Linked DNA regions of Homo sapiens. The protein of the gene in region 3 interacts with the protein of the main gene of each other region in a pairwise test. Each region holds a gene or a part of one and is shown on either strand. Other genes may lie near its edges.

Evidence for each region.
Region 1: the proteins of IKZF3 (region 3) and CCDC102B interact in binary tests that used the Homo sapiens proteins (3 or more experiments, as listed by UniProt).
Region 2: the proteins of IKZF3 (region 3) and STX11 interact in binary tests that used the Homo sapiens proteins (3 or more experiments, as listed by UniProt).
Region 4: the proteins of IKZF3 (region 3) and CPNE7 interact in binary tests that used the Homo sapiens proteins (3 or more experiments, as listed by UniProt).

The regions. Positions count from the first base shown.
Region 1 is NC_000018.10:68,891,719-68,899,266, reverse strand, and holds part of CCDC102B (coiled-coil domain-containing protein 102B), read right to left. Parts: intron 2,049-7,548; coding exon 1,839-2,048; intron 1-1,838. UniProt on the Homo sapiens protein: During interphase, forms fibers at the proximal ends of centrioles to maintain centrosome cohesion. During mitosis, dissociates from the centrosome following phosphorylation to allow centrosome separation. Contributes to CROCC/rootletin filament formation.
Region 2 is NC_000006.12:144,145,992-144,153,680, reverse strand, and holds the start of STX11 (syntaxin-11), read right to left. Parts: upstream 3,165-7,689; 5' UTR 2,978-3,164; intron 2,586-2,977; exon of another isoform or gene 2,276-2,585; intron 1-2,275. UniProt on the Homo sapiens protein: SNARE that acts to regulate protein transport between late endosomes and the trans-Golgi network.
Region 3 is NC_000017.11:39,853,854-39,861,401, forward strand, and holds part of IKZF3 (zinc finger protein Aiolos), read right to left. Parts: intron 1-7,548. UniProt on the Homo sapiens protein: Transcription factor that plays an important role in the regulation of lymphocyte differentiation. Plays an essential role in regulation of B-cell differentiation, proliferation and maturation to an effector state.
Region 4 is NC_000016.10:89,571,095-89,579,200, reverse strand, and holds the start of CPNE7 (copine-7), read right to left. Parts: upstream 3,444-8,106; 5' UTR 3,304-3,443; coding exon 3,130-3,303; intron 1,675-3,129; coding exon of another isoform or gene 1,663-1,674; coding exon 1,480-1,662; intron 345-1,479; coding exon of another isoform or gene 205-344; intron 1-204. UniProt on the Homo sapiens protein: Calcium-dependent phospholipid-binding protein that may play a role in calcium-mediated intracellular processes.

The DNA.
Region 1 (7,548 bases), on a different chromosome or scaffold from region 3:
GACATCATAATCTTGACATTTTGAGCTTCTGGGGAAGTTCCTGTTGCACTAAGAATTTTGGCTTGCTACCGTTCCAAAATAAGTGATTATTTTAGTTCCAGCAGATAGTCTGAATTTGTAATGAAGAGGATAAAAATCACCAACCACCACCCTCACCATCAAAATGATATATACTTAAAAAATCCTACAGTCTTCTAAGTGATCAGCATACCCACTGACTTAGACCTTTGAGGATCCTCTCAGTTTCCAAGTTCTGCTTAGTCCCAGCCCAAATAACTACATTGTCAAAGAGACCAGGTCTGGACTCGGTGTGCCCTGATGACAGGTTACGCCAATGCCAGCTCCAAACAGGTCTCAATTTTTCCCGAAAGATATACTTTATATTAATACATTTTGATACAACTAGAAAGGTGCCAAAATCAAATATAATCAATTGCTTCTTAATCTGTGTCCCCTTCCACTTTATTCTTAGCAATCACTATAATGTTTTATTTATAAAAATTTGTGTGTTTGACTCCCTATATAGACTCTAAGCCCATGCTGGGTGGGGATAATGATTCATTGATTAATATTCTCATTACCTGCATATAGAACAGTGACTGACACAGAGAATAATACGAATAAATGTTTGTCTTGTTTGAATAAATCAAATAAAAAGTATTTCTATAATCAAACCACAGTCCATAATTGAGATAATTCTGCACTTTTTAGAGTAGAGATCTCCAAAATAAGATGTCTACAGATTTATCAGTGTACATATGTCAGAATCAAATACATTATTATGGATAGTTTATGAATCAATATAATAGAAAATTATGGTCACGGACTATAACATTTAACTTTAGATATTTGCATTGCTAGGTCATGAAACACTAATACAATTTAATCTTGCATTTGCAATAAATCCCTAGATTCATGAAAGAATGATGAAATAATATGGAATTCAATTTTTCTGGCCATTTAGGTTTTAGAGCTTATGTGAGTATGAATGACTTAAATATCTCAAAACTATGAACTTATCAAATTCACCTTTTAAAACTGTTAAAGAAACTGAGTGAGAAATAGAATTGTGCATTAAGATGCTATATATAATTGAAAAATAGAAACAAGGTAAATATAATTTACAGCACATTGACACGAACCCACATTAAAACTATAAGACTGCCATTAAAAGCACATTTAAAAATCTGTAAACTATCAAAAAAATGTCCGTCTATAGCATAAACTATATCTACTGGCTTGGGGATAAAACACATCCAAAATTAAATTTCCCAAATTTAAATTCTGAATGTTATCCTGGTTTTAAGATTTATACCACAGGCTGGAAAAATTATTTGAAAAATTATGCATTTCATTAGCTCAAAAATAATCGTTCTGAAACTGACAAAAAAGAACCAGAAAGCAGTGAGTTTCAGCTAAATTTAAATGTTTATGCAGATACTTACCATAGCTACCAGCAAATGCTTATTGTATAGTCGCTTGAATTAATGAAAAAATCTTTATTGGAAATAAGATCATTAGCTTAGAAAATACTGAGACAAAGCTTTAATAAGAAACAAAAAACCAGAAAGTTCTATTTCTTACTTCATTTTTCTTCTTCCTTTTGGAAATCTTGAAACTGTCTGAAGATTTGTCATATTTTAACATTTGACACACTTTGTTTCAGATGCATGAACGTTATTTTACATCCTAGTGGGCAAAAGAGCAAGGAGTATCAGGTATTAGCTGGCACAAAAGGAAATATCCAAATGTGGAGGCGTGTACGAGTGAAGACAGACTCTGCGTAGGCATCAGAGTGAGATTAGACAGTGAGAATTTGCTCCAAGGAGCACCCATACCTGGTTTTTTTCTTGCAGATCAATTTGTGACATCTTGAAATCAGGACTTTGAGAGTTTGCACTTAATCTATTTTTCTTATCCAAAAGCTCTTCCATTTCTTTCACCTGGATCTTCAGCCTTCTATTTTCTCTCTCCAGTCCCTGCTTTTCTCTTTCAAGTATTTCCCTCTTGTCCCACTCCGAGGTATTTTCAGCTTGCAATCTCTCTAGCTACACACAGAAAACACAAAGAAGCAGCATGCAGCATTTGCAATTGCCAAAAGATAATGCCACCCACAACCAGACTCCCATTAAGAAAAGTTCATGGATATGTCCACTGATACAATTTTAAAAAGAAAATTCTATTTGTTTGAAAACATGAGAAAAATACAAAAATCCTAAGATCAGGCCAAACCGTAGATAAATATACTTTTCCTCTTGGTTCATGTAACTATCTCTACAGCCATATGTACCATATTTTTCAAATATATGTGTCAAGTGAAGAACTGCTGCTCTTGGGAACATTAATCTCCACTCTCAACTGATAAACATTCTCAGTGGAGAAGACACAATATCATTTCATGGGCAATTTTGATTGGATATATTTCATTTATTCATTCACTCAATTATCTAGGGAATAGACAGATGCTATATGGATCTCTCTATCTCTATCTCTCTATCTCTCTATCTATGCAACATTTGCAGTTGCCAAAAAGTAATGCAAAAAGTAATTTAATTTTATATTGAAAAAATATATATAATTTATCATTTTATATTTTAAAATTTTACATTAAAACATTTTCAACATTAAATTATATAAAATTCAAACTATACCACAAATAAAATCGTATTGGGACATGGCCACGCTCATTTCTTCACACTTTGCCTATAACTGCCTTCACACACAATGGGTAAGTTAAGCTGTTGAGAGAGAGACCATATAGGTAGTAAAGCCCAAAATAGTTACTTTGTGGTCCTTTACACTAAAGTTTTGTCAACCTCTGCCCTCTTCCCATGGTTCTCAACCAAGGCTGCATGGTATATCAACATGAGGAGATTTTTATTACTATCAATGACCAGAAGCCTACTCTAGAAATTCTGATTTAAGATAATTTTAATATCTCCTTTGGTTTTTGTTATTTTAATGTCTTTAAGTTTTAAAGAGGCAATATCAAATGTATTTATTTTCTGCAGTTTTATTACATCTAAGTGCTTATTATTATGAGATGAAATTATATTCGTCTGCTATAATTTTTCTGTGGACATTGTAAGTAGAAGTGAATAGTAGCTTTTTTGTCTCTAAATTATAGTCCTGAGCTATGCATTCTAATGTGACTTCACCATTTATTCTCTGGATAAGCTTAGTCAGGTAACTTCATCTACCCCAATGTAGACAACTTATTTAATCTGACAAGGTTTGTGAGAAGTGAAATTAATCAAAGTAATTAGAAAGCACTTTGTCTAGCAATGTAACACTTAAAGGAGAAACACTGTGGTAATATAAATTTTTTAAATGTATGTTTCTCTCATATATTTAGGCATATGGATATCGAGACATCAATGTAATTTATTGCATAAATCTATACAGCAGAGTAACTCTTTACAGTAGAAAATCTATTAGAATCTCATCCTGGTCCCACCATTTACTCATTGTCTAATTCTGGACAAGAAATTTATTATCTTATTAAGTTTTCTTACTAGTAAAATTAGTATGATACCATACATATAATACCATAAATACAATAGCACAAATACCATATTTGTGGTATTGTAGGGACAGAAGAGGGTCAACTACTCAAAATTCCTTGCAAACTATTTAGGATGATTAGAGTATGAGGCATTTTAAAAATATCTCAAAAGGATAAAAATTCTAAATTACTTGTTTTAACATTGTTGATTATAATGGCTTCATTGCAACATACTTTATAATTATTATACTGTTATAAAATCTGTTGCTATGACATGCTAAATTCTAAAAGCCCAACAACTTAGTCAACATTTAGAAAAATGTTACATTTCAACAATATCCTTTATAGTATCATAATAAATTATGATATAAAAGCCTAAAAACTGCTTTTTCATATATATATAATTGTACCATTATTGTAGAAAATGTTCTGTTCCCAAATCTAAGAGATGTTCTGGCTTCCAAAATGTAGGAAACCAAAATTACATTCTTGGCACTAGACCTCATTTACCAATTATATATAATAAACTAAGGGTCAAATTTTAGATGATGTAGTTTGACATTTGGGATGCTTGTTTGGGAATATGAGGTGAAAATATTATATCACAATTTAATTTAGTACCTGCCATTACTTTCATTGTTAAGATTAATACTTAAAGTTTCTATCATTGCCTCACTTATCAGAATAAAAATGATAAAGTTGCCACAAGAAGGCAGCAACTTAGCAATGAAAAATTAATATAAGGAGAGCAAATGTATTTTTGGGCAAGGACAAATATGCTGTGTCAAGTCTTTGTGAACTTGCAGTATTCTTTTAAATGTTAAAATTAAATAAATTGATTTAACATTAAATAACAGATAACAAGTAGAACCAAGGTTTTAAATAAGTAATACATGGTCTGAATGAATAAATTTTAACTCTTAAGATTTTTTTTAAGTAATGATTTTAGCAGTAGCAACAACAAAGCTTAAATAATGCCTTCTGATGTTTTACTATTGGCAGATTTATCAAAACATACAAATTATTTGATAAATATATGTGTATAACATATATTAAAAAGTAAAAGTCTTATAAAATTATAAGAAGTTTTAGTTTTTATTTTGTAAAACTGTTTCTTATCACATCATTCTTTTCCAAGAATCATATGAAAATTCACTAACTTAAAAAGCATTTAATTGCATGTACCTTAAAATGATAAATAAAAAGTCAGGTAATATTTTAAGCTCTCAGAGTTTATCATAAAAATTACAATAATTTTATCAAATGGAAATAGAATTCCATTGCTTTGCTTCTGATGATGAAGAGAAACTCCTAAAATATTTTAATTCTAACTCAACTGTGAATTTTAACCAATAGCGTGTTCTAGCATTAAATGAATTTCAGATAATGCAGAAATTACTGAAACCTGTTTTCTGAAAATTTTAATGTAAAAGTACATTCTTTGTACAGTAAGCACTAAAATATTTGTTCACTTAATGACATCAATTTCTTATTAAACGTCGAGAAAAAGTACATAAATATCCAATACTACACTTACTGAATGAATATTTATTGAGCTTATTTATGTATCAAGAAACAAAGAGGAACTGAATATATGACTTTAAAAATACAAATAGAATATGAGTAACATTGGGCATCTTTTTACAAAGGAAAAAAAATTGAGTGTCATAGAAAGGCCTGCAATAAATCAGGTAAAAGGAGAAGGTTGTTTGAGGAAATGATTGATATTTAAGCTGCAAATTGAAGTTTAATAAGGCAGAAAAGCACAGCCAGACCCAGAGTGTACCAAGCACAGAAAGCAAGAAAAATGTTTGAACAGTGCAAGACCAAGAAGAGTCTGTGCAGTTATGGAATGTTAGGATTTGGGGAGAACATGGTATAAAAGGAAACTGGACAAACACGGACTGGTTCTGAAAAATAAGTATGAATATCAGAATCAGTTGAGTTGCTTGTAAAAACTGTAATATTGTGATTATTCCGAAGGATAAAACATTGGATCATTTTCTAAACATAGCTATTTACTCATTCTTCAACTGCCATGGCTTGATATTGTTGAAAAGATACTGACAATTGTAATCATTAACAACAACTGGAATGTAAGCTTTATGAAACCAGGACTGTGTCATTTTGCTCATAAGCCCAGCACCAGACACACACTGTATGTGTGCTCCATAAATAACTGTTAAGTGAAAGAGAAAGCAGATAATGACAGTCTCCAGGAAAAAGCCCTTCTGTATTTCAATGACAATGATTACACACAAAGCAAAATTAAGACAGCACTCTAAAAGAATCCAGTTACTAGACTTACCATAACATAACATGAAAAGGACTTCTCCGTACATTGGCTCTGAACTCTTACTGCTATTGCCAGAGCTGTTTTACATTTTATAGTAGTGAACACAGTGAGGCAGAGAGGATTTTTAATAAAATAACCTACAGATGAGTCCCAATTCTCCTTTTAGACTGATTGCCTCAATTTTTCTTTTTTATAACATAAGAAAACTCTTTCCTACAACCTAGTGTTATGAGGGAGAACTGAAATCATTTAGAGAAAATATTTATTAACTTCCAAATTCAACTCAAAAATGTCTAAAGTCATAAATTTATTTCCTAAAGAAGAAAACATCAACAGCCACTTCAGATACAAAATAGTGTATTTACTTTTTCCTCAAGTTGTACCAAGATGACAATCACTTTTTAAATGGACCTAGTCAATGGAGAAAACTCCCAAAAGAATGCACTATATGCCACTTGGCAGGCCAGTGAAGAGTCACCTAAAACCAATGTGAATGTTCCAGTAATTGATTTGCAAATATTCAGAAGGTAGCAGCTGGGTTCAACTACACTCCCTGTAATTGAGATATGAGAGCCATTGTCTAATGCCAGACACAACTATTTCCTTACATATGTATTGATGTTATACCTATTTTTAAGCTTTGCAGTATCCCTCAAGATTTGAATGTGTTTATCTTTCAGTCTTAAATTACATTGAATTTATTTGCTAGACTTATTTAGATGTCTGTTTTGTAATATCCAAATAAATCAGTCTCTTAAAGTAATTTTTTGTAATCAATACAAAAATAGATGACTATGGCTATAAAATAGTATCCTTTGAAAATTGCATAGTTTAGAACGTGAACACAGACTAAATCTCACTCTCTCAAGCCAACCTCCAAAGATCAAAAATGAGAAAAAAATAAAATCACTGGTAGCTGCAAACCTGTCAACACAATAAAGAGGCTTAGACTTATAGAAACTTGACGGATATGTAAGAGGTGCAATAAATGTCTGAGGGCAGCAGAGACTTCTCTGGAGACCATGTGGGAGCAGAGTCAGATGGGGATGGTGCAGAAGAGAAAACATGCGCTATGGTGGATGTCCTGTAAAGGTAGCCACATCACCTTAAGCAGGGAAATAACTGAGAACAGATCTCAGACCTGGAGAGCCAGAACACAAGCTACTATCAGAAATGTAATAAAGGAGATTAGAAAGTACAAGGGTCATTGTTTTCAGGTTTTTCAAGGTCATGGGTAGCACTCTAGATTGCAAGGGGTATCTTGGAAAGCAGGGCTGTCATTTAGAAACTTCCTGGAAAGGGACAGGAGGAAAGCAAGAAGTTGATATTAAGGGAATTATCAAAGAATCATAAGACAAATTGATTTTCATCCTCCTACCCAAAAGCTTGGATTTTTAAAAAGTGTCCCTTCACTGTATCGACAAAAGAGGGCATATTACAACTAAGAAATTAAGTACACAACTCGTAATTTTTATTATTCCACTTTCTCCCATAGAACCCACCTGTTACCTCTTATTCTTGCTATCCCTGGAAAATCCTACCCAACTGTTATGGACTGAATTGTGTACCCCCCAATATTTGTCTTTAGAAGTCTTATCCCCAGTGTGATAATATTTGGAGATAGGTTCTATAAATAGGTAATAAAGATTAAGAGGATACATTAGGGTGGGGCCTTAATCCAATGGAACTGATGTCCTTATAAGAAAAGGAAGATGTACCAGAGATCCCTCTCTCCAAGTGAGCACAG
Region 2 (7,689 bases), on a different chromosome or scaffold from region 3:
CAGTTTCCACGGTGTCTTCCTAGGGTCAATGTCACTCTCATCTAATCTAAGATTTTTAAAATTCCAAGTTTTGTTATTATTTTTTAAACACATACCTGACAATATCATTCACTTGTTCAAAGGCTTCAGTACTATTAAACCCTCATGGGGCCTTTGTGATCTGGCCCTTCCTGTCTCCGTAGGCCTCCCTCTGTGCCGTCACTAAACAGGCTGGAGTTTCCTGAACGTCCAGTGCTGTTTCACTTCTCTATGGGTGCTGTTCCTTCTGCTGGGTCACCTACAGCAGACAATTCCACTTGCCTGACAATTCATCCTCCTACGTGAAGGTTCATTATTCCATCAATAAACACTTTCTAACACTTATCATGAGACAAGCCTGGGCCAAGTTCAGGGAGTACAATGCTGAATGACAAACTCGACCCTTTCTTTCTCATAGAAAAAGTAACTTTAGGGCTCTCAAAGGAGGAATAAAGTTTGGAAATTAAGGTAAAGTTGTCTGAAATTTAGCATTGTTGCCTTTACCAGTTGGATATCTTAGCAAACTGGGGAAACTTGGAAACCTTGATACTTGGGCATCCAGTTCAAAAGCATCTCAGCAGATTTCAATTGCAACAGTAAACTGTGATACGGTAGATTTATTCATTTTGGCTCACACGGCTATAATGTGATAAAAAACATTGATTTGAACTACAAAAACAATGATCATAAACTCGCTTCAATATAGTGTTACCAATGTATAAACTATTAGGCAGGGCATGGTGGCTCACATCTGCAATCCCAGCACTTTGGGAGGCCAAGGCAAGCAGATCACCTGAGGTCAGCAGTTCGAGACCAGCCTGGCCAACAGGGCCGAACCTTGTCCCTACTAAAAATACAAAAATTAGCCGGGTGTTGTGGTGGGTGTCTGTAGTCCCAGCTACTTGGGACGCTGAAGCACAAGAATTGCTTAAACGCAGGAGGTGGAGGTTGCAGTGAGCCAAGATTGCACCACCACACTCCAGCCTGGGGCAACAGAGTGAGACTCTGTCTCAAAAAACAAAACAAAACAAAACAACCTATTAATTAGTCACACCATTTCCTAAAAGTCATGCTGTTAACTAAAGGTGACTGCAATTGTCCAGGGGTGATAATCAGCTGAATTTCGTTTTACATGGTTATTAAATAACATGAAACATGGTTCATTCAAGCACTTTAAAAACCATACCTTTCAAATTCATACATTTTTAAATCATGTATCAAATGAAGAATAGGCTGCCTACAAAGACAAGTAAATGACTAAACTCAAAAGTTTCCTTGCTCTTCCAGCCATGACCCAGTCCATTCCAAATCCCAGATCTTCAGAAACATCAGTCATATTGGGACAGAAACTTTTCTCTGGGTATAGATTTACCCTAGCACCTATCTCATTATATTGAATTTTCCAGCATATTTAAATAAACTATTAATTAGTCACACTATTTCTTAAAAGTCACACTATCAACTAATCGTGACCGCAATTATCTAGGGGTGATAATCTGCTGAGTCTACTCTTTAAATACACTGGGACCCAGCATATTGAGTTATATTGGCACAGAAACTTCACTCTGGGTATAGATTTACCCTAGTACCTTGCCGGCAGGATCCTATTATTCATGGTTGTACAAGCAAGGTTCAGGGAAGAGGCTGGCACAGAGAAGGTACCTGGTAACTGTTGTTTGAGGCTGAATTCAGCTCAACTCAGCTCCAGTAGAGATGGTGTCCCCTTCTCTACCGTGTTGAGATAGTGTGCAGTCCCTTCCTAAGGGCTGTTACCCACCGCAATAGGACTTGTCAGCTTCAACTTTTAAATTTCTCTGCTCCCGCTGGGACCCACCCGCTTCAAAAATCATCATGTGGTTTTAGCACCAATTTAGTAAACACAAACTGTCTGAAATATTTTGATTTTAGAGAGTTACTTACAATCACCACATTAAATGATACCTTTCTCCCATGCAGTGAAAATGACAGCAAAATGGTCATTGAATAATGAAATTAATTTTCTCTTGGGCATCTGTGGCAAAGCACATGATTTCAATGGTTATCTTAGATCAGCCCAGTGACCTTTACTGGCATGTTGTAACATCAGGCGCCTTAGGAAACTGAAAACTCAATCGTCACTTCCCATACCACTGCCCCAGGTTGGCAGGGCAGGCATTTCACATCTAGAGTCTCATTTTAAAGCAAGCCTCGCTTTTCAAAAGTTCATTAACAAAGTCTCACAATTAAGAGAGCAGCCCTGTGACTCATTTTTGGATACCTGTAAATAACAGCTCCTCCCTCTGCTGAGAAACGGCTGAAACAAGTGCGTGAGAACCACAGGAAGTAATACAGATCTCAGCTGGTGTCAGCGGAGTCTAGAAAAAGGCAGAATTCCCTCTCAGGACGGCGTGGCTCTCGCAGGCATTGCCACTACTTCTCTCCATGTTTCTAAAACAAAGTCTTACGTGGGCTTCGAAGGGACTCCTCGAAGGCTCTATCAATTTCTCCGTCTTTCCTGGCTACTGAGTGACACCGCCAAGTTCAAGTCAAGAAGTACCCATTCTGGTGTTTTTGACACAGTCACCCTACTAGGAAGTGAAGAGGTGATAATAAAAAAACACTCCAGCCTTTCGATTTAAAATAAAAGTAGTCTTGGGTGGACACTTTATAAAGGCAGCCTACCAACAGGTATCCCTAAAATAATTCTTACGAAGCACTAAATCCTAAGTCCCTCAGCCTCTGAAATTAAAAGTAATTTTAAAAAATCATTCTGCTTTATATGAGAAACCCAATGCTGTGTTTCCGAAGGTGCCCAGAGGCGGCGTGAGGACCTGCGCCAGATCCAAAATCCCACCTAAGGCACAGCCGCGGGTCCCGAGCCTAGACAGTGCCCCCGCCCCGACCCGCCCTCCCCGATCTCTCCGCGCACGGGGAAAATAGTCAGGAAGAGAAATGGGGGCTCAGGAAGAGAAAAACAAACCTGGACTGGGAGCGAGAGTGCGAACCGAGAAGCCCCTCTCCCGGCAGGGCGCGCGTCCCCTGTGGGCGCAGCGATGGAGAAGGAAACCTGTTGCGCGACTCCCGGCGGCTCCGCTCCCGGCGCCTCCTGCGGCCGAGGCTGAGTTCCTCCACGGCCGCCCGAGCTCCGCGCCGCCGCGGCCGCATCTGGGCGCCGCCGGCTCAGCCCCCGCCGCTTAGGAAGCGACCACAGCTGGGGACCAGGCCCCGCCCCGGGATGACAGCGCTGGGGCGCGGCGGCAGCCGGCTCACAGAGCGCGGGTTCCCGCCCCACCCAGAGTCCATGCGCTCGGGACCGCCCGGAGCCGGGGACGCGCTCCAGCCCCTCCCGCAAGCCCAGGGGCGTTCCCGCGGGCTGCGCGGACCGGCGCGGGGAGTGGGATGTTTGCCGCCCAAGACACTTCCTCCGCTCGTCCTCTGGTCCCCAGGGCAGGGAGCGCGCTGGACTTCCCCCGGGAATCCCCGCTGCGCTGGTGACATTTGCAGTCCGGTGCGTTGCCGCGGCGAGGACGCTGGAAGCCGTCTCTGAGCGTGGGTGTGGCTGCGGAAGCTGCGGCAGGTCCTGCATCCCTGGGACCCTCGAGGACGCGGGCGAGGAGCCTGCGGTCACACGGAGGCCGAGCACCGCCTTCCCAGAACCCTGCCGACCAACCTCTCTCCAGTCGGCCTCAACACCCGCCGGGCTCATCATTCTCTGGATATCAACTGAGCGTCCCCTTGTGTGCCCACCGCGCTCAAAAATACTGCCAAGACCCACCCTCCAGGTCCCGGCACTTTAACGGGGAGGGATAAATAGAAAGTGTGGATTGTGCCAGGTGGTGGTAAAGCACCTTGAAAAACAAGGCTGAGGCTGAAAAGTAAGGAAGTGATACTCAAAAAAGGAAAAATCGGGCCGGGCGCGGTGGCTCACGCGCGTATTCCTAACACTTTGGGAGGCCGAAGGGGGAGGATCTCTTGAGCCCAGGAGTTTGAGACCAGCCTGAGCGATGTGGTGAAAGCCTATCTCTACAAAAAATAAAAAAATTAACTGGGCGTGGTGGCGCACGCTGTGATCCCAGCTGCTCGGGAGGCTAAGGTGGGAGGATCACTTGAGGCTGAGAGGTCAAGGATGCAGTGAGCCGAGATCGCGCCACTGTACTCCAGCCTGGGCGACAGAATGAGACGCTGTCTCAATTGAATGAGAAGAAAAAAAATAAAACTAAAGAACGAATCCTGCCTTGATGGCAGAATGTTTAGACACAGGAACCACCTGAAAGCTCCCAGTTGCCAAAGATGGAACCATTTGAGCAACGAAGTAAACTAAACAAGGTAGTATTGGATTACAAGCCAAAGTAAAAAAATCCATGAGTCTACACTGATATAAATAAATAATTGAATAAATAAATAAAAGGCGGAGAGGAGACAAATCTCCTATACAGAATAATTCCAAATAATTTATGTAGATCATGTACCCTAGGCTGTGCACAGTGACTTCCTCCAAAATAGTACAATGTGGAAAGGGAAAAACAGTAGGTTTACAATGGAGAAAGCCGACAGACACTACCCCAGCCAGATGTTCTAAGCCAACGTCAACAATCGTGACTCATTGATGGCATGTAGTCAATATGATGTGATGAATGTGGCATATTACATGTGTGGTCTCCCTCCTGGAAAACCATAACCTCAGTCTCATAATGAGAAAAATATCAAACAAATTCCAGTAGTGGAACATCCTACAAAATACCTGACCAATATTCCTCAAAGTTGTCAGGTTATCAAAAGTAAGGAAAGTACAGTCCAGACGTGGCTCACGCCTGTAATCCGTACACTTTGAGAGGCTGAAGCGAGAGGATTGCTTGAGGCCAGGAGTTCGAGGCCTGATCTGGCCGACATAGCCAGATGCTGTCTCTACAAAAAATAAAATAAAATAAGGAAAGTCTGAAAAACTGCCGCAGCCTAGAAGAAACTCAGGAGACGTGAAAACTAAATGTAATGTGGTATCCTGGATGGGATCCTGGGACAGAAAAAGGACTTGGGGAAAAACTAAGGAAATCTAAATAAAGCATGGACTTTCATTAGTAATAAGAATCAAGGTTGATTAATTAGTTGTGAGGAATGTAATGTAAGATGGTAATCATAGGGAAATCTGAAATGGAATTTATGGAAATTCTGTACTACCTTTGCAGTTGTTCTGTAAATCTAAAACGGTTCTAAAAAATACAGTTTATTTTAAAAGAAAGTAAAATAAGAGGGATGAGGTATGTTATATTTTTAAAAATGGGTATATTGCAAAGCCATCTAAGATAAGAGAATCATTGAGGGAGGAAACAATGCAGCTATTGGGATTAAGATCATTTCAAGCCTAGGAATCAGTGGATGTAAAGGCCCCGAGGCAGGAGCATGCTGGGCTTCTGGGAGAAATATCAGCGTGGGCAAAACAGAGTCCAGGAAGAGTGATGGTGGTGGGGCTAGGAGTGGGGAGTAGAGCATGTAGGGCATTGGTAGTCATGATAGTCTTTACATTTTACATTGATTGAGACAGGAAGACTGAAGAATGTTTATCAGAGAAGCTAAATGATGTTGCTGGTTGTTTTTTTAATCTACCGTTTTGTTGAGGACAGATTAAAGGACAAAGATTAAAACAGGCCAACGAGTTAGAAAGCTGTGATGGTTAATTTGATGTGTCAAATTTATTGGACCATGGGGTGCCCAGATATTTGGTAAAACATTATCCTGGGTGTGTCTGTGAGGGTGCTTGCTGATGACATTTTTAATTTTTTTGAGACAGCAGCTCACTCTGTTGCCCAAGCTGCAGTGCAGTGGCATGATCATGGTTCCCTGCAGCCTCGACCTCCCCTGCTCAAGTGATCCTCCCACCTTGGCCTCCCAAAGTGCTGGGTTAACAGGCATCAGTTACCATGCTCAGCTGAGATTAACCTTTGAATCCATGGAGAAGACTGCCTGAAAAAGTAAATTGTGGATGGGGAGGAAAGGTGAAGATTGCTGGGGATTAAGAGTGGCATTTTGGACACCTTCAGTTTGGAGTTGTCAAGTTGTCATGAAGGCAGTTGGTTAGGTGAGTCTGGGATGGTGGTATATATTTGGAGTTCTTTAGCATATAGATGGTGTGCAGACAGAATGGGGATGTCTGAAGTCTGAGTCCTGGCATGCTCCAAAGTTCAGAGGTTAGGAAGATAAAGAATCAAAAAAAGAGAATGAGAAGTTCTGATTAGTGAGATAGATAAACCAAGAGAGAGCACGTTTCAGGAGCCAAATTAAAAAAATTTTTGTAAAAAAGAACAATTAACTGTGAAATGCTGCTACAGTGTGTAAAATTAGGACGGAAAACTGAGGAATGGGCTTGGCCACATGGAGGTCAGTGGTGAGCTTGGTAAGAAGAGTTTTAGTGGGGGATGACCAAAGCCTGTTTGGAGTGAAAGAATAAAAACATCAGATGAAGACAAAGAAATGGAGTAGAAACAGGAAGGAACCATATAGTCAAAGCAGTTTTTTTTTTTTTTAATTAGAAGCTATACATGTTTGTTTGCTCACCAGCATGAACCAAAAGGAATGGAAAGAGGGATGATATGGGGGAGAAAAAATGGGTTACATGCTGGAGCAATGTTCTTGAGTAGATGAGCAGGTGTGCAATCCAATGCACACATGGAAATTTAGGGTAAAACAGAAGAAAGAGTTCATCCCTGGTAACAGGAGAGAACAACTCCAAACTGAATGTGTCCAAAATGCCACACTTAATCCCCAGCAATCTTCCCCTTCCCTCCCCATCCACAATTTACTTTTTCAGGCAGTCTTCCTCATGGATTCAAATGATAATCTCAGCTGTGTGGTAGCCTGTAAACCCAGCACTTTGGGAGGACAGGGTAGGAGGATCACTTGAGCCCGGGAGTTAGAGACCAGCCTGGGCAACATAGGGAGATCTTGTCTTTACTAAAAATCAAAGAATTAGCCGGGTGCGGTGGTGCATGCCTGTTGTCCCAGCTATTCAGAAAGTATGGCAGAGATGCTGGTAAATGTGGAGGCAAGAACATATTTTATCAATGAAATTAAAAGCAAGAGCTGGACGCCGTGGCTCAGGCCTGTAATCCCAGCACTTTGGGAGGCCGAGGCGGGCGAGTCACTTGAGGTTGGCAGTTCAAGACCAGCCTGACCAACATGGAGAAACCCCGTCTCTACTAAAAATACAAAATTAGCCGGGCATGGTGGCACATAATGACAGGGTTTAGAGTATGGCCAATCTGAATTATCTTCCGCAATTGATCTGCTCACACCCAGCTGAAACCCCAGATTATTCTTGTTTTATAAATTTCTCTGGAGACCTTGGCTCTCCCTTCCAGTCTGGAGTTTTTCAGAGATGATGACCGATAAGGACCTTAGGGTGAAGCTCAGATAAAACAGAGCAGGCACTGGGTGCGGGGCGTGGCAGTTGCATGGCGATCTGTCAGCCGTGGCCATCATCCTGCACGCTAGTGCCGTTCCTAATTTACAGAGCTCTAAACCCATTGAATCCCAGGGTTGGAAGGTCCTCTAGCACAGCCACCCTTCTGAGGTGCAACTCCTTCATGGCCCTCAGTCAAATAGTCATTGCGTATCCCTGTACCATGTAGTAACCAGCAACTACCATTTCTCTTTTTCATGCTAGTTCGAGAACTCTTTGCAGATAAAGAATGTGTTTAA
Region 3 (7,548 bases):
ACACGGTGGCTCACGCCTGTAATCCCAGCACTTTGGGAGGCCGAGGAAGGTGGATCACGAGGTCTGGAGTTGGAGACCAGCCTGACCAATATGGTGAAACCTGTCTCTACTAAAAATACAAAATTAGCTGGGCGTGGTGGCACATGCCTGTAATCCCAGCTACTCAGGAGGCTGAGGCAGGAGAATCACTTGAACCTGGGAGGCGGAGGTTGCAGTGAGCCGAGATCACGCCACTGCATTCCGGCCTGGGTGACAGAGCAAGACTCCGTCTCAAACAAAAAAACAAAGTCCCAATTGTAATATAAAGGTGAAATAAATGACAGTAAATAATATTCTATATTTCAAAATGTAAATGCACCAGCACAATTATTCCAGAAGACAGAATAAGGTAGATAGACGTATTTGTAGAATCACCATGAATGCAACAGCTAAATGCAGAAGGATGCATGCTGCATCAATTTAAAAAAAAAAACAAGCAAGGAAATAAAATTTAAAAAACAAGGAAATAAAGCCATGGATCAAATGAAAAACAGTAATAATAATGGTAAAAGTGGCTAAGCTCTAAACTAAACAAAAAAAATCATCCTCTCTCAATGTAGGTGGTAATTCCAATCCTAGATAAATTTGAGTGTACTAAAACCATGCAAAAATGCTTCATGTTTGAACATAAAATGGAGTTACAGTCTAGAAGTCATTAGACAGCAAAAAATGTCACTACGTTTCAGAAAAGGAAGGTATTCCTCTTAGAATGAGGGATGGCTTCCTAAAGGAGATGGCATTTAGGATAGACCATAATGGATGAGTGAGGATTTCAGTTGGCATGATTGTGGTGCTATTAACAGTGTTGGGAAGTCAGGAGAAGTTGGTTTGGATTGGAGAGAAAATTAGTTCATTTTTGGACTTGTTGAGTTGGAAGAACAGCATTAGAAAAATGGGGAGTGAGGGAAAGCAATGCCTGAACAGGGAACACTAAGCAGCAGTCCAGAGTCACATTACAGGACAGAAGATACCACTGGAAAGGTACTGAAGCTGTGTTGTGGAGTATCTTAAATGTCCAACCAAAAAATATTTAAAATGGTGTCTGAGTAGGAGAATAACTTTATGTTTTAGGAAGATCATTCTGGCAGCAATCCTCAAAACAGATTAAAAGAGGCAAGTCTAGATACAGGGTTACTAGTAGGAAAAACATGTAACGGTCTAAATCAGTCATTTTCAAAATGTGTTTTATGGAATCCAGGGTTGCAGAGGGCTGCCACAGGGCTGATCTATGGCAAGAGGAAGATAGGCTTAGCAGTGGTCTCTTGCTCCTTCTCCAATCTCTCATTTGGAACATTACACTTGCATCTGATCCCACATAAGATTTTGGTATAAACGGTGTCCTGTTGCAAAAAAAACAAGTTTTTGTCTTGTTTTTGTGTCTAATCCTAACTCTTGTTGAAATGTGAGACTAACAGTGAAATACCTCAAGGTCATCGTGTAATCATCAAGTCTCATTGTGTAGAGTAGTAGTTATAAAATCTATAAGCACTACATGAATTCCTAATATCAACTTGTTCAGTCATTATTTGTCCTATTATATAGATTGGATCTCCCTCCCCAAATTGGATTACGTGTAAAAATGTTCTAGTTGTTTAGGTCTGGGGCAACTAAGTCCATACTAGGTCATTGATGTTTGCAATGGATATCTATAGAGTCCTTTGAGAATCTCCAAATTCCTTTTATTGAGATGTGCATACTATGCTATTGGCTTGGCACACTTAGAAGCTGTTACTTGTTTGTGCATTCTGGTCTCCTAGCCCTACTAATTCAAATCTGAAAAATTAGTCGGGCAGTATTGGCACATGCCTGTAATCCCAGCTACTCAGGAGGCTGAGGCAGGAGTGCTTCACCTTATTATTTCAGAACAGTTTTTAATTAAACTACTCCCAGAAACTTGAGAAAGGATGATAAGTAATCTTTGCTTCAAAGTTGAATCACAAAAATATTTAACATTCATTTTATTTCATTCTGAACATAAAAATCAAACAAGAAATGCCCCAACTTTATTATAAGTATTTAAGATTTATAATATACGATGATGATGTAACATGTATTATAATATACAATGTATATTGTATATGTACAATATAACATGTATATTGTATATGTACAATATAACATGTATATTGTATATGTACAATATAACATGTATATTGTATATGTACAATATAACATGTATATTGTATATGTACAATATAACATGTATATTGTATATGTACAATATAACATGTATATAATAACTCTTTTAAATGCTTGTAAGGTTACATGTTACATGTCTTTGTTAGTGAGTAGTTGATTACTATACTGTGACAGAAGCATGTCCCAAGCAGCTGAGCCTTAGCCTTTACAGGCACTTAATAAAGTACAGGGAATAAGACAGTTAGTAATATTCTTTTTTATTTATTTATTTTTTTGAGACGGAGTCTGGCTCTGTCACCCAGGTTGGAGTGCAGTGGTGCAATCTCCACTCACTGCAACCTCGGCCTCGCAGGTTCAAGCAATTCTCCTGCCTTGCTGGTGGTGGCACGTGCCACCACACCCAGCTAATTTTCATATTTTTAGTAGAGATAAGGTTTCACCATGTTGGCCAGCTGGTCACAAACTGTTAATAATATTCTTACTTAAATAACTTTTACAGCGTGGTGGCTCATGCCTGTAATCCCAACACTTTGGGATGCCAAGGCGGGCGGATCATCTGAGATCAGGAGTTCGAGATCAGCCTGGCCAACATGGTGAAATACTGTCTCTACTAAAAATACAAAAATTAGCCGGGCGTGGTAGCGGGAGCCTGTAATCCCAGCTGCTCGGGAGGCTGAGGCAGGAGAATTGCTTGAACCTGGGAGGCAGAGGTTGCAATGAGCCAAGATTGCACCACTGCACTCCAGCCTGGGCAACAAGAGCGAGACTCCATCTCAAAATAATAATAATAATAATAATAATTTTACATGAGAAAATATGCACAGGAGAAAAAAGACCAGCAGCACCATGATTTTACTCATCATGTTTATAAAATTTTAATATTTGGAAAAAAAAGCCTCATTTTGAGGTCAGAGGATAAATTTATACACTGATCATCTTCAATACTTTAAAGTCTGGAATTTTATGTGAAATTCAAATGAAATTTAAATCAAGTTAGCCCGTGAAGCACCTTTGTGGAACTGCCTACACTGTATGTAAGCATATAAATCAACTATTAGTGATTTTTAGCAGTCTAGGTCAAGGGATTTCTTAACTAAGAGATAGAGGTAGATGACAGCAAAAATGACTAGTTGTTATATATTATAAAAATTAGTTACTTCCAGTTTTCATACTGGACAATATTTTCCATCAGTTATGATGTAATTCCATATCCATAAAAATGTTATAGGTTTGTGAGAGTGATCTTTTTCTCATATCCACAAACTCCTAGAGGAAATTGTTCTGATGTGCCAAATATTCTGGTAAATTAATAGTCTCTCTAATATACATTACTTCTTAAATGAACTGATGTTGCTGTGATAGAGTATTCAAATTAAGTGATGTTCAACAATTTTAAGAATCAAAACATCTATTGTGAAGAAAAGGTTTATAGTGGAAACTGCAGTGCTTCACTGAAATAAAAAATGTACCAAAATTATTAAATAAAGCCAAAAGTTAGAAGGCATTGTATTTTGTGGGGGGCATGGATTAGAAAAATGGCCGTATTCACGCATTGGATTTAGCCAATACTTCAATCTCTTCTACCAAACCTTTAACAGTACCTTTAACAAATTAGCCAGCAAAATTTACCAATTTCAATGTCTCTATTTTCCTTCCCCCCTTTACTATAAAAGCTGGGCAAGAAAAGAGTCAAATGATCAAACACACAGGCAACTCATTCATTAATTTATTAAACAAATATGACTACAGGCCTACTATGTGCTGGGGACTGGGTTGGGTACTAGTTACCACCGATTATAAAAAGATCCCCAGCTACGCATGGTGGCACATGCCTCTAGTCCCAGCTACTCAAGAGGATGAGGTGGGAGGATCGCTTGAGCCCAGGAGTTTGAGACCAGCCTGCAATGTAGAGAGACCTCATCTCAAAAATTAAAAAAAAAAAAAAAGAGAGAGAGAGAGATCCCTAAACTTTGGAAAATAACAGTCTAGAAGGGGCTATAGGTGTATTAATCAACAAAATAAACAAGAAACTTAGTTGCATAATCCTTAGATAATTCAGAGTAGAAAAATAATAGTTTTGTTCTGTTTCATGAGTGACAGTATTGAAATGTTTTCCATTTCTTATTTTAAAAGTTTCCTTCATTGGCTGGGCATTGGTGGCTCACATCTGTAATCCTAGCACTTTGGGAGGCCAAGGCAGGAGAATCTTTTGTGCTCACGAGTTCAAGACCAGCCTGGGTAACATAGCAAGACTATGTCTCTATTAAAAAAAAGGAAAGAAAGAAAAGTTTCCTTTGTAAACCCACAATAACCTAATCTGCCAAAAATTTCATCTCTAAGAACACTACTAAGTACAATTTGTGACATATTGCCAATTCCACTGTTATAAAAAATCACTCAGTAAGCTGATTTTAAGTACTGACAATAAGTAAAGAGTAATGCACTTTGTTTCATATCCATTACCAAGTACCTAGTTTTTTGTTTGTTTGTTTGTTTTGAGATGGGGTCTCACACTGTCACCCAGGCTGGAGTGCAGTGGCGCGATCTTGGCTCACTGCAACCTCCACCTCCCAGGTTCAACCAGTTCTCCTGTCTCAGCCTCCCGAGTAGCTGGGACTACAGGCGCCTGTAACCATCAAGTACCCAGTTTTTAAATATCTCCTGGATTGGACACATATCTAACATAATATTTTCATATGGTATTGGTATTTAATATAATACGGTAATTCCATATTATTTTCATTTACTGTATACCACTTTGGACTTACATTTTTTGTTGTTGTTGTTGAGATGGGTTCTCACTCTGTTGCCCAAGCTGGAGTGCAGTGGCGTCATTACAGCCCACTGAAGCCTCAAACTCCCAGGTCAAGCCATCCTCCCACCTCAGCCTCCCAAGTAGCTGGGACAAGTGCACACCACCACACCAGGCCAATTTACTTTTATTTTATTATTATTTTTTATGAAACAGGGCCTCACCATGTTGCCCAGGCTGGTCTCAAATTCCTGGCCTCAAGAAATCCTCCCACCTTGGCCTCCCAAAGTGCTGGGATTACAGGTGTGAGCCACTGTGCCCAGCCCTTAAATTTTTTAAGTAACTTTTTAATTAAAAAAAAAACTTTTAATTTTGGATGCAAAAACCAGATTTCAATTAGACTGAAAAAATAACCTCATTCAGAATCACTAGGGATAAAAGTATTTTGATGAGTTATATAGTAATATTAATTAATAAAGTTATACACAGATTACTTTTCAAACAATCTATATATATTATAAATAAATTATAATTATTGTTTCATTATTGCATCTTTTTTTTAGTGATCCAAAAGGCCTTGGTGTCATCCTTATGATTTTTTTTTTTTTTGAGACAGGGTCTTGCTCTGTTGCCCAGGCTGTGGCATGCTCATGTCAGTGCAGTGGCATGCTCATGGCTCACGGTAGCCTCGACCTCCCAGGCTCAAGCCATCTTCCTACCTCAGCCTTCCAAGTAGCTGTTACTACAGGCATGTGCTACCACACCTGGCTAATTTTTGTAGTTTTTGTAGAGTCAGGGTTTTACCATGTTGCCCAGGCTGGTCTTGAAGTCCCAGGCTCAAGCAATCTGCCCGCCTCAGCCTCCCAAAGTGCTAGGATTACAGGCGTGAGCCACCACTCCTGGCCTCATCCTTATAATTTCTAATTATCATAAATATACCAGTTAATATGGAGCTAAATTTAATAAAGGCTAAATAGCAGAGTACATTCTATGGCCTTGTGATGTGTAGGGTCTCTTTTCAAAATAATTAATGAATCCTTAGGACAAAAGACATTTATTGAGCACCTACTATAGGCAAGTTTCTGTGTTAATCACTCAGTTCTTCTCATACATGGTCTGGAACTATAGCTTGACATATGAGCCAATTATCATTGGACATCTATCTAGGCCAGGTGCAGTGGCTCACTCCTGTAATCCCAGCACTTGGGAAGGTTGAGGCGGAAGGATCACTTGTGGCCAAGAATTCAAGACCAACCTGACCAACATAGTGAGACCCCCATTTCTACAAAAAATGAAAGATAATAAATCAGCAGGTCATGGCGGTTTGTACAATAAATTACCAGGTTATGGTGGTGGATGCCTGTAGTCCTAGCTACTCAGAAGGTTGAGGCAGGAGGATCGTCTGAGCCTAGGAGTTTGTGGTAGCCTGGGCAACAGAGCAAGGACTATCTCTTTAAAAATAATAATAAAAAAAAAAAACTGGATGTCTGATAAAAGATCTACCAATAATCAATAATCTTTTAGTCCTAAATAAGTGTAAGTATATACATTTATATATGAATGAAAAGTTTATAACAATGTATTTTTAAAGTATCACTTGAAAGCGTATGCTATTTTTATGGCATCATCTATATCTTACTGACTGAGAAAACAAATTTCTGCTCATATTCAATGGATATTTTAATGGACTAATTGCGATCCTGAAATCTGCTTATGTAAATTTAACAGTTAAAATTTGGCTTTACACAAAAAAGAATGAAATCATATCCTTTGCAACAACATGGATGCAGCTGGAGGCCATTATTCTTAGTGAATTAACACAGAAACAGAAAACCAAATACCGCATGTTCTCACTTATGACGGGGAGCTAAACACTGGGTACACATGGACTGTTATGAATTAATGTGACCCCCAAATTAGACACTGATGACCCCAAAATGGGGAAGGGTGGGAGGAGGGCAAGGGTTGAAAAACTACCTATAGGACACTATGCTCATTATTTGGGTGACAGGATCAATAGAAGCCCAATCCTCAGCATCACATAATATACTTATGTAAGAAACCTGCACATGTACCCCCTAAATCTAATTTTGTTAAAATTGGCTTTAAGTGACAGTCTAGCAAAAAATATCCAATAACATTTTTGTTTTCCAAGCTTTCTTTTTCAATTATACAGTTTAAGTGCTTAAAAAATTACTGAGCTTTATCAAAGAATTACTAGCCCCAATCTCCTACTTTAAAAATTTATTTAAATAAAATGCATCACAATAAACATAATAAAAAGTACTTTTTCAGCACTATTTTAATTGAATGCAACAAATTCTGAGGGCCTTCTATGAACCAGAAACTGTCCTTCGCATTCAGTGTACAAAAACAAGACACAGTCTCTGTTCTCCAGAAGCTTAAAGACCAGAGGGGGAATAAACACCTACATCAATAAATAATTTCAACACAATGTGGTAGAAGTATACACAGAAAGGAGAGGCCCTTAGCTGAGGTGAAGGAACATGAGAGACTGGGTAGGGGTGATCACCAGAAGGCACTAGGAGGAGGTCATCAGAAGAAGGTCATCAGAGAGCCTTCATGGCGATGATGCCTGAGCAGAGTCTTGAAAGATG
Region 4 (8,106 bases), on a different chromosome or scaffold from region 3:
CCTGCCTCAGCCTCCCCAGTAGCTGGGACTACAGGCACGCACCACCACGCCTGGCTAATTTCTTTTCTATTTTTAGTAGAGATGGGGTTTCATCATGTTGGCCAGGCTGGTCTCGAACTCCTGACCTCGTGATCCCCCCACCTCGGACTTCCAAAGTGCTGCGATTACAGGCGTGAGCCACCGTGCCCGGCCTGTAAATTTTACCTCAATAAAAAAGAAGGACCCGTCCTGGCAAGGTGTGAGGATTCCGTGCAGCACAGGAAGTGCTTAGCGCAGTGTCCAGCAGGGCCCAGCACATCAACAGACACTCTCATCACGACTTGCAGAAGCCACTTTTGGGCTGGCTGTGGAGGCCGTAACCCAGAGAGCATCACCAAGGAAGCAGTGGCCACCGTAGGACCTGCTGCTCACAAGGAGGCTTCTTTTTTTTTTTTTTTTTTTGAGACAGAGTCTCAATCTGTCACTCAGGCTGGAGTGCAGTGGTGAGATCTCCACTCACTGCAACCTCTGCCTCCCGGGTTCAACCGATTCTCCTGCCTCAGCCTCCAGAGTAGCTGGGATTACAGGCACATGCCACCATGCCCGGCTAATTATTGTACTTTTTGTAGAGATGAGGTTTCAGCATGTTGGCCAGGCTGGTCTCGAACTCCTGACCTCAAGTGATCTGCCCGCCTCGGCCTCCCACAGTGCTGGGATCACAGGTGTGAGCCACCACGGCCGGCCACCAGGAGACTTTTAGGTGCTGATATGGAGGGGCTGCTGCACGTCGTGGAAGTGAAAACGCAGGATGCAGAACAGGGAACGTAATTTGTGTATTTTTGAAAAAAGAGGAAAAGTGGGCTGGGCACCGTGGCTCACGCCTGTAATCCCAGCACTTTGGGAGGACAAGGCAGGCGGATCACGAGGTCAGGATTTCAAGAGCAGCCTGACCAACATGGTGAAACCCCGTCTCTACTGAAAATACAAAAATTAGCCGGGCGTGGTGGCGGGTGCCTGTAATCCCAGCTACTCAGGAGGCTGAGGCAGGAGAATCGCTTGAACCCAGGAGGTGGAGGTTGCAGTGAGCCGAGATCACGCCACTGCACTCCAGCCTGGGTGACAGAGCGAGACTACATCTCAAAAAAAAAAAAAAAGAAAAAGAAAAAAAAGAAAAAAGAGGAAAAGTGATAGGCTGGTTTGCTCCTGTGAAAATCTCTCTCTGGACAATGTCCAGGGACCTGGCAGCAGCTGGATGGGGCAGGATGGAGGCGCTCCACAGCCTTTTATACCTTCAGGCTTTAAAACATACGAATGTATTACCCAGTTCAAAATTACATGTATATTTTAATCTAATAATGACTGTTCAGGAGGAGCTGAGGAGGGGGCAGAGCCAGGTTGGCCACCCCAGCAGGGTCCCTGCGGTGCTGGTACATCAGCCTTGAATCGGCTGTGGCCCCCACGCCAACCGTCCTCCTCCCTCCGAGGGGACGGGGCACCCACCTGCCCCAGGGTGCACTCCATGCCCCCCAGGAAATCGTCCTCCTGACAGCTGAAGCCGCTGGGCCCATGCGTGTCGTACACCTCAAAGCGCAGCCTCTGCACCTCCTCGAAGTAGTAGTCCACCGTGAAGACCTTGGAGAACACGGGATGCAGGCTGCTCCGGACCACCTCGGTTCTGCCCACCTGCAAGTGCACCTGTGAGCCGACCCCACTCCAGAGGCTTCCACCCCGGGCTCCAGACCTCCATCTCCCCTCTGCCGCTCACCCACGCCCAGGTACCTCAGGAGGACTCATACCCTGGGAAGACCTCCTGCCTGCTCTCTGTCCATGGGACCACAATCCCGAGGGCCACCCTGGGGGTCACCCCTGGCCACCACTGTCTGCTCCACCCTCAGATCACAGATGGGGAAAGTGAGGCTCACAGAGGACGAGAATGACACGCTGAGTCGGGGGCGAGATCAGATTCACACCCTGGGCTGGGCAGCCCTAAAGTGCAGGCCGCTCCCCAGCACCAGCTGAGTGGGGAGGGGGCGTAGGGTACAGGGGGGCCCTCCCTCCTGGCTGGGGTACCATGGGCTCACCAGCCTCTCCCATCCCATGCAGTTCCCTGGTCCAACTGCCCCGTAAGGACAAGACCCAGCTGGGCCAGTAGGCTACTCATTTCAGAATCCTGAAAAATCCTGCACCTCAAACCAAGGGCAAACATGGGCCACCCGTACAGCTCACGCTCTGAGGGTGCGGGCACGAGGCCTCCGTGGGGATGGTGGGCTCGGGATGTGAAGGGTGGGCTCAGGCTGTGAGGGGCGGGCACGGGGCCTCCGGGGGCAGCCGGAACCCTGGGGACAGGCGGTGAGGGCGGGGCAGGCCCTTCACCCTCAAGGTGGATGACCGGAGACGCCACCGGGTGACCGCGTCCCTTCCACCGCCCGAGCAGCCGCCCGGGCCCGCGCTGGAGCCTGGAGAGACCCCTGCGCCGGGGAAAAGCGCTGGCGCCCCGCGCGGACTGGGGTTCGAGTTCCGGCTCCTCCGCCCGCTGCGGCTTCGCGCCATGCGTTTCTCGCCCTTTCGAGGTGAAGCCACGCGTTTCACGCGAGATGGTGACCGAGGAAGCGCCCGTCTGGCGCCGGCCCCGTGCCCCTTCGGACCCCAACCGCGATCACAGCGGGTTCGCTTGAGACCCACGTTGGAGCGGGAGCCCCGGACGCCTGGAGGTCCGCACCCCAGCGCGCGCTCCCTCGCCGGCCTGCTCCCGCCCAGCCTCCCGCCCCCCGTCGGCCGGCGCCCCTCACCCCTCAATCTCCTTGCGCCTCTTGGTCGAGCCCCCTGCCCGCGCCTCATGCCTGGGCGCTTCACTCTGGCCCGGGGCCCCCTCCCCGAACCCTGGGCCGCACCCCTCACTGCGGGGCACCCCCCTCTCTCCTCCGAACCCCGCTCGCCGCCACCTCCTCCAGCCCAGCCTCTCCCCACAGCTCTGGACACCCCACCCCCAGACCTGGTAACCCCCAACCCTGACCCCGAGCTGAGCCCCAGCTCCGGGGGGCCCCGCCTTGCGCCCCACTGGCCTCAGCGCGCCCGCTCTGGTCTCCGCATCCCCAGCTCGGCGCCAGCCCCGGCCCGGTGGCCTCTCGGCCTCCCACGCCCCGGCCCTACCTGCACCCACTGGCCCTGCGCCTGCTGCAGCAACGCCACGCTGGGGTCGGACTTGGTGAGCGGGTCGCGGTCCAGCAGGTGCCGGCAGCTGAGCCGCAGCTCCACCTTCGAGGCGCAGGGCGCGGGCAAACCCCCGGGGGTTGCCGCCGCCCCGCGCTCCGAGCCCGCGCTCATGCTCCCGGCGTTCGGGGGCCCGGCTGGGCGCACTGAGGGGCCGCTGCCCGCGAGTCGGCGCCGCCGCGGCGCCCGGGAAATGGTGGCCGGCCCAGGCGTGGCCGCGCTTCCCTGAACGCCTGCCGGGCGCGGGCGCACGTGGCTCGGGCGGCCGCCGCGCGGGGACTGCAGGGGGTGGGGCGCGGCCGGGGGGCGGGGCCGGGGAGGGGCGCGGCGGGAAATGAGGGCAGGGGGCAGAGGCAGGGGTGCCCCTCGGAGATGCCCGGGAGGAGACAGCTTCTAATTCCCCGGGGACCCCCCCCCCAACTGATAGCTTTGGGGTCAGGTCGGGCGCGCCCTCCCCGGCTGTGCGCATCCCCGGCCCAGGGACCGGCTCCGGGCTGGAGGCTCCGAGCTGCGCGGGGCCTGAGCCCGGGTTCGGACCCAGGCAGACACTAGGGGAGGCAAAAGGGGGACCCCAGCTTGGCACCAGATCCCCGCGCCCTTCCCGGATCTCTAGGATCCCATTTCCAGGCTCCGCTGGTTTCGGGTACTCGCCACCTCCATCAACAAGCATTTAGTGGGCGCCTGTTGTGTGCAGGCGCCGCGCTCGTCTGGGGCTGGAAGGACCGTCCCGGGGGGCCGAGGGCTGAATCGCGGTCTGATTCCGAGGGGTCCGCGGGGCACGGTCCACACCAGTCCCCCGAGGCCGGGGCGGGGCGGGGCAGGCCTGGGTTCCGTGGGGGGTGGGCCCGCTCCGCCCTGAACTCACTCCCCCACCTTCCCCATCACCGGTCCCGGGGGAGGGAGCAGCGGAAGAGGAGGCGTCGGCGGGGACAGAAACCACCTCGCAGTCCACTCTTTTTGCCGATTTCTGCCTAAAAATAGGGCACGGACCTCGCCAAAAGCCACGGGGGTGGGGGGCGAGGGTGAGGGAGACATTAAGACTGAAGAGGCGGGAAGACCGGGCGCCTCCGCTCAGCCTCGGCGATCAGGACTCTAGAAGAAGACCCTGCGGTCAGAGGGGACCGCCGCCGACAGGGCGAGGAGGCTCAGGGCCCCGCCGGCGGGAGGCAGCACAGGCAGCCTCGGCCTGGGAGGAGGAACGCGGCCAGCGGCGTCCCCTCGCGGTCGGACGGCGGGATGGCGCCGGGCGCGGCTGCAGGGCGGGGAGGCCCCACGGGGCTGGCAGGGCCGGGAGAGGCCATGGAGACCGGCTCCTGCCTTCCCGGGAGGTTGGCTAAAGAGGCGAGGAACAGGTCAGGGCGCAGCGAGGCCTGCAGGGCCCCATCTGCTGTCTCCCCGGCCTCTGCGCCTCCTCCCTGAAGCCCGCAGTGGGCAGAGGCCAGTCCCGCTCTCTAGGGACCAGTCTGGGCCTTCCCGGCCCTGTGTCCTCCTCAGCCCAGCCTTCCAGGCTGCCGGGAGGCCACATCCTCGGTCCCCAACCACTTCCATGGGAAAAGGATGCGAAATTCAGGCAAAGGGTGCGGGCGCCCAGGCAGCTCCTGCAGGCCGTGCCTCCCGCTCGGTTCCAGCAGCCCTGGGACAGTTTTCCCCAGACCAAGCTCCGCTTCCTGCCTTGACCTCACCCGAAAGCTCCTCACCACCGCCCTGAGGTTTGCTCGTCTGCAGTGTGGCGTGAGGCCTGAGGTCCACCAGGCTGTCTGAGGGGTACCCGGCTTAAACCTGGAACACCCCAGTTCAGCCCTTGGCTGTCACATAGCGGCACCCTGGCAAAATAACAGATGGCTTCCAAGCAAAGGACGCAGGGAGCCAAGAAAGATCACAGAGTTTGGGAATTTGAGTCTCTGAAGCCCAGGGCGATTTGGGATCTCCAGCCACAGCCCTCGGCCGGCTTGCTGTCTCCTGACTGACAGCCCTGACTGCAGCCTGCTCTAATGGAGAGAAACCACAGAAGGAAAAGCCGATTCCCCTGTGGCACTGGTGTCTGGACGCTGCCTGCCCCTGCTCAGGGATCAGCCCGCAGTAGGCCCAGGTACAATGGAAGGACCCCGCAGGCCATGTGGAGCCATCTTTCCAAGGCTCCCCCTCCCAGCTTTCCCTGCAGGGCCAGACACAGGAAATGAGATCCACACACATACACGCAGGAATAATAACCGTGTTCCTTGTTGAAATATTAGACAATGCAGATAGGGAGTAAAAACAAATTTCCAGACCCCAAAGCAGCCCATCACCTCCCCACATCTAACCCTCCAGGTTTTTTTTTTTATGTGCAAATTTCTTTTAATTGTCAAAAAAAAAAAAAAGGTGCCTAACTCTCAGAGCCCTTCCCACACTTGAGAGGACTCTTCAGTATCTGCACGCCAGGCTCATCACGCGGGCCAGGCCCGGGACCCCACGCCAGGCTCATCACGCGGCCCAGGCCCGGGACCCTGCCTGGCACGGTTGGAGCACCATAGGTGTTGGTGCAGATGGTTTCTGTTCTGTAACCTGCTTTTTTCTTTCTTATTGACAATATTGCATTCAATGGTTAGCCTGGATCCCCTCATCACTGGGTTACCTATGAGACCCTCTGATTAGTGCCGACCCCCACGGCTATCCAGAGGCTTACACATGATCAATTTTAGGAGCAGCAATGACATATCTGTGCCCAAGTGCCCTGTGTGGCTTCCTGGCATCCAGGACTCAGATACTTTTCAGGCCCAAGTGCCTCTGCCTCAGCCTCTCCCACCACCCGACCCCTACCTACCCTGCAAAGCCCAGCCCAGTCTGAACCGCCACCCAACATCCCTCCCTGGGCTCCCGGCCCACACGTCCACAACATCAGTTCCACTGTCCAGGGCTGTGCTGCCCATGACCTCATCCACCCTGGACCAGGAGTCCACCGAGGCCTGAGTTAACACCAGTACAGGTCCCAACACAGAGTCTAAGACAACAAACTCCAGGCGGATGAATGAAGTGCGGATCAGCGAATGAAACGCAGCTCTGGTGGCTGCTCTCTGGTCCTGGATCTGCCTCGAGGGTGTCATCTCCATCAGTCACAGAGTCCCCATCTCCCATTTCAGTAACACTGGCCACGAGGCCAACCGGGAGCAGGGAAACCTGTCCAGGGCCTCCAGAGGTTCCCGGCAGACCCCAGGCCCACTGCTACTGCCTTGAGGCACATCCCCTGGAGCCAGTGCTCTCCCCCACACTCTGACAGCCCTTTGTCCCTGAGCCAGGTCCAGAGTCCATGGCCTCCTCCCTGGCCGTCCTGAGCACACAGCTGGTGTGCTCCAGTGGACCGGTCCGGGGCTCGGTCCCCACCCCTGAATGCAGGGTCCTCGAACCTGCCCTTCATGTGGAGAGATTGTCCCAGAAGTTGCCTCAAAACAAGAAATTGCAGAGGGTGGGGGTTACTAACAGGATTGTTTAACAGGAAACAGCTCTCCACGTGTCCGGATGGGTGCTGCTTTTTTTAATCTGGTTGCAAACCTACCCTCTTCTTTTCTTTCCTCCTAAAGAAAGGTTATTTTATCTTAGAACATCTGCAACCTGTCTGGATCAGATTGTCTTCCTGCAGGATCTGATGCTGATCTTATTTGAGAAATCAACCATGCCCAGAGGCGGCCACGCCGGCTGTTGGCTGAGACAACACACCTGGCCAGTCTCAGTTCCTCGCTGACCTTGTTACAGCCTCAGAGACCTGGGGACTGATTAGGGGGACTTTCTCCTCCACCACACTCAGCACATGCAGGCACGCACGAGCACACGCCACACACGTGTGCCAAATACCGCAGACACGTGCACGTACTCATGGAGAGACAGCCCACACGCAGACACGCCAGGCACCCAAGACACACAAGCGCAGACACAGGCCACCCCAGGGCAACATATGTTCCAACCAGGGGGTCCCCTTCCTCCACTTCCTTCCCCCAACACCGTCTTCTGGGTGTGGATGAGACCCCCTTCTTCGAGACTCCCTTCTCCTCCAGGCGCGTTCTCGCGTGCAGCCCCGGGCCGCCATCCCTCCTGCCCCTTGTCTGCATGCAGCCAGGAGCAGACCATCCCAGCCCCCAGCATCTCTGCCCAGCAGGAGACACCACTGCTGGCGGGAGACATGGCTCAGAGAGGGCGTTGTGGTGGCTGAGACCACACAGCAGGGGTGGAGCTGGAACCCAGAACCCAGCTCAGAAGCCAGCGCTCACACCTTCCTCGGCCCGTCCAGGCCCTGGGGTGGAACTGGAACCCCGCTCAGAACCCAGCCCTCACGCCTTCCTTCGCCCGTCCAGCCCCCGGCGTGGCTTGATGGCTTTGCTGCCCTTGCCCAGAATGTTCCCAGCAGACCCTCAGGAGCACTTACTGTGGAGGGGCCCAGACTTCACAGCCCCTGTGCAGTGAGACCCAGGGGTCAGGGTCCCTGCCCAGGACTGCACGCTGGGGACACCGTCCGGGACTGGCTCTTCCTCACCCCCTTTGGCCCTCCTGAGCCAGGACCCCTCTGTGCTCAGACTCAGGCACCAGCCATCCCAGAGTCCCCAGGACTTGGGCTCCTGGTCCCACTGTCCCCACTCCTGGGTCCTCTCTTCTTTCTGACTGCCAAGCCTGCTGACCAGCAGTGGCCCTGGGCCCCTGGACCACCTCCCCGGCCCCCGGACCGCCTGTACCCACTCACCTCCTCCCGTCCCCGCTCACCTCCTCCCGTCCCCGCTCACCTCCTCCCGTGCCCCGCTCACCTCCTCCCGTGCCCCGCTCACCTCCTCCCGTGCCCGCTCACCTGCTCCCGTGCCCCGCTCACCTCCTCCCGTGCCCCGCTCACCTCCTCCCGTGCCCCTCACCTCCTCCCGTGCCCGCTCACCTCCTCCCGTCCCCGCTCACCTCCTC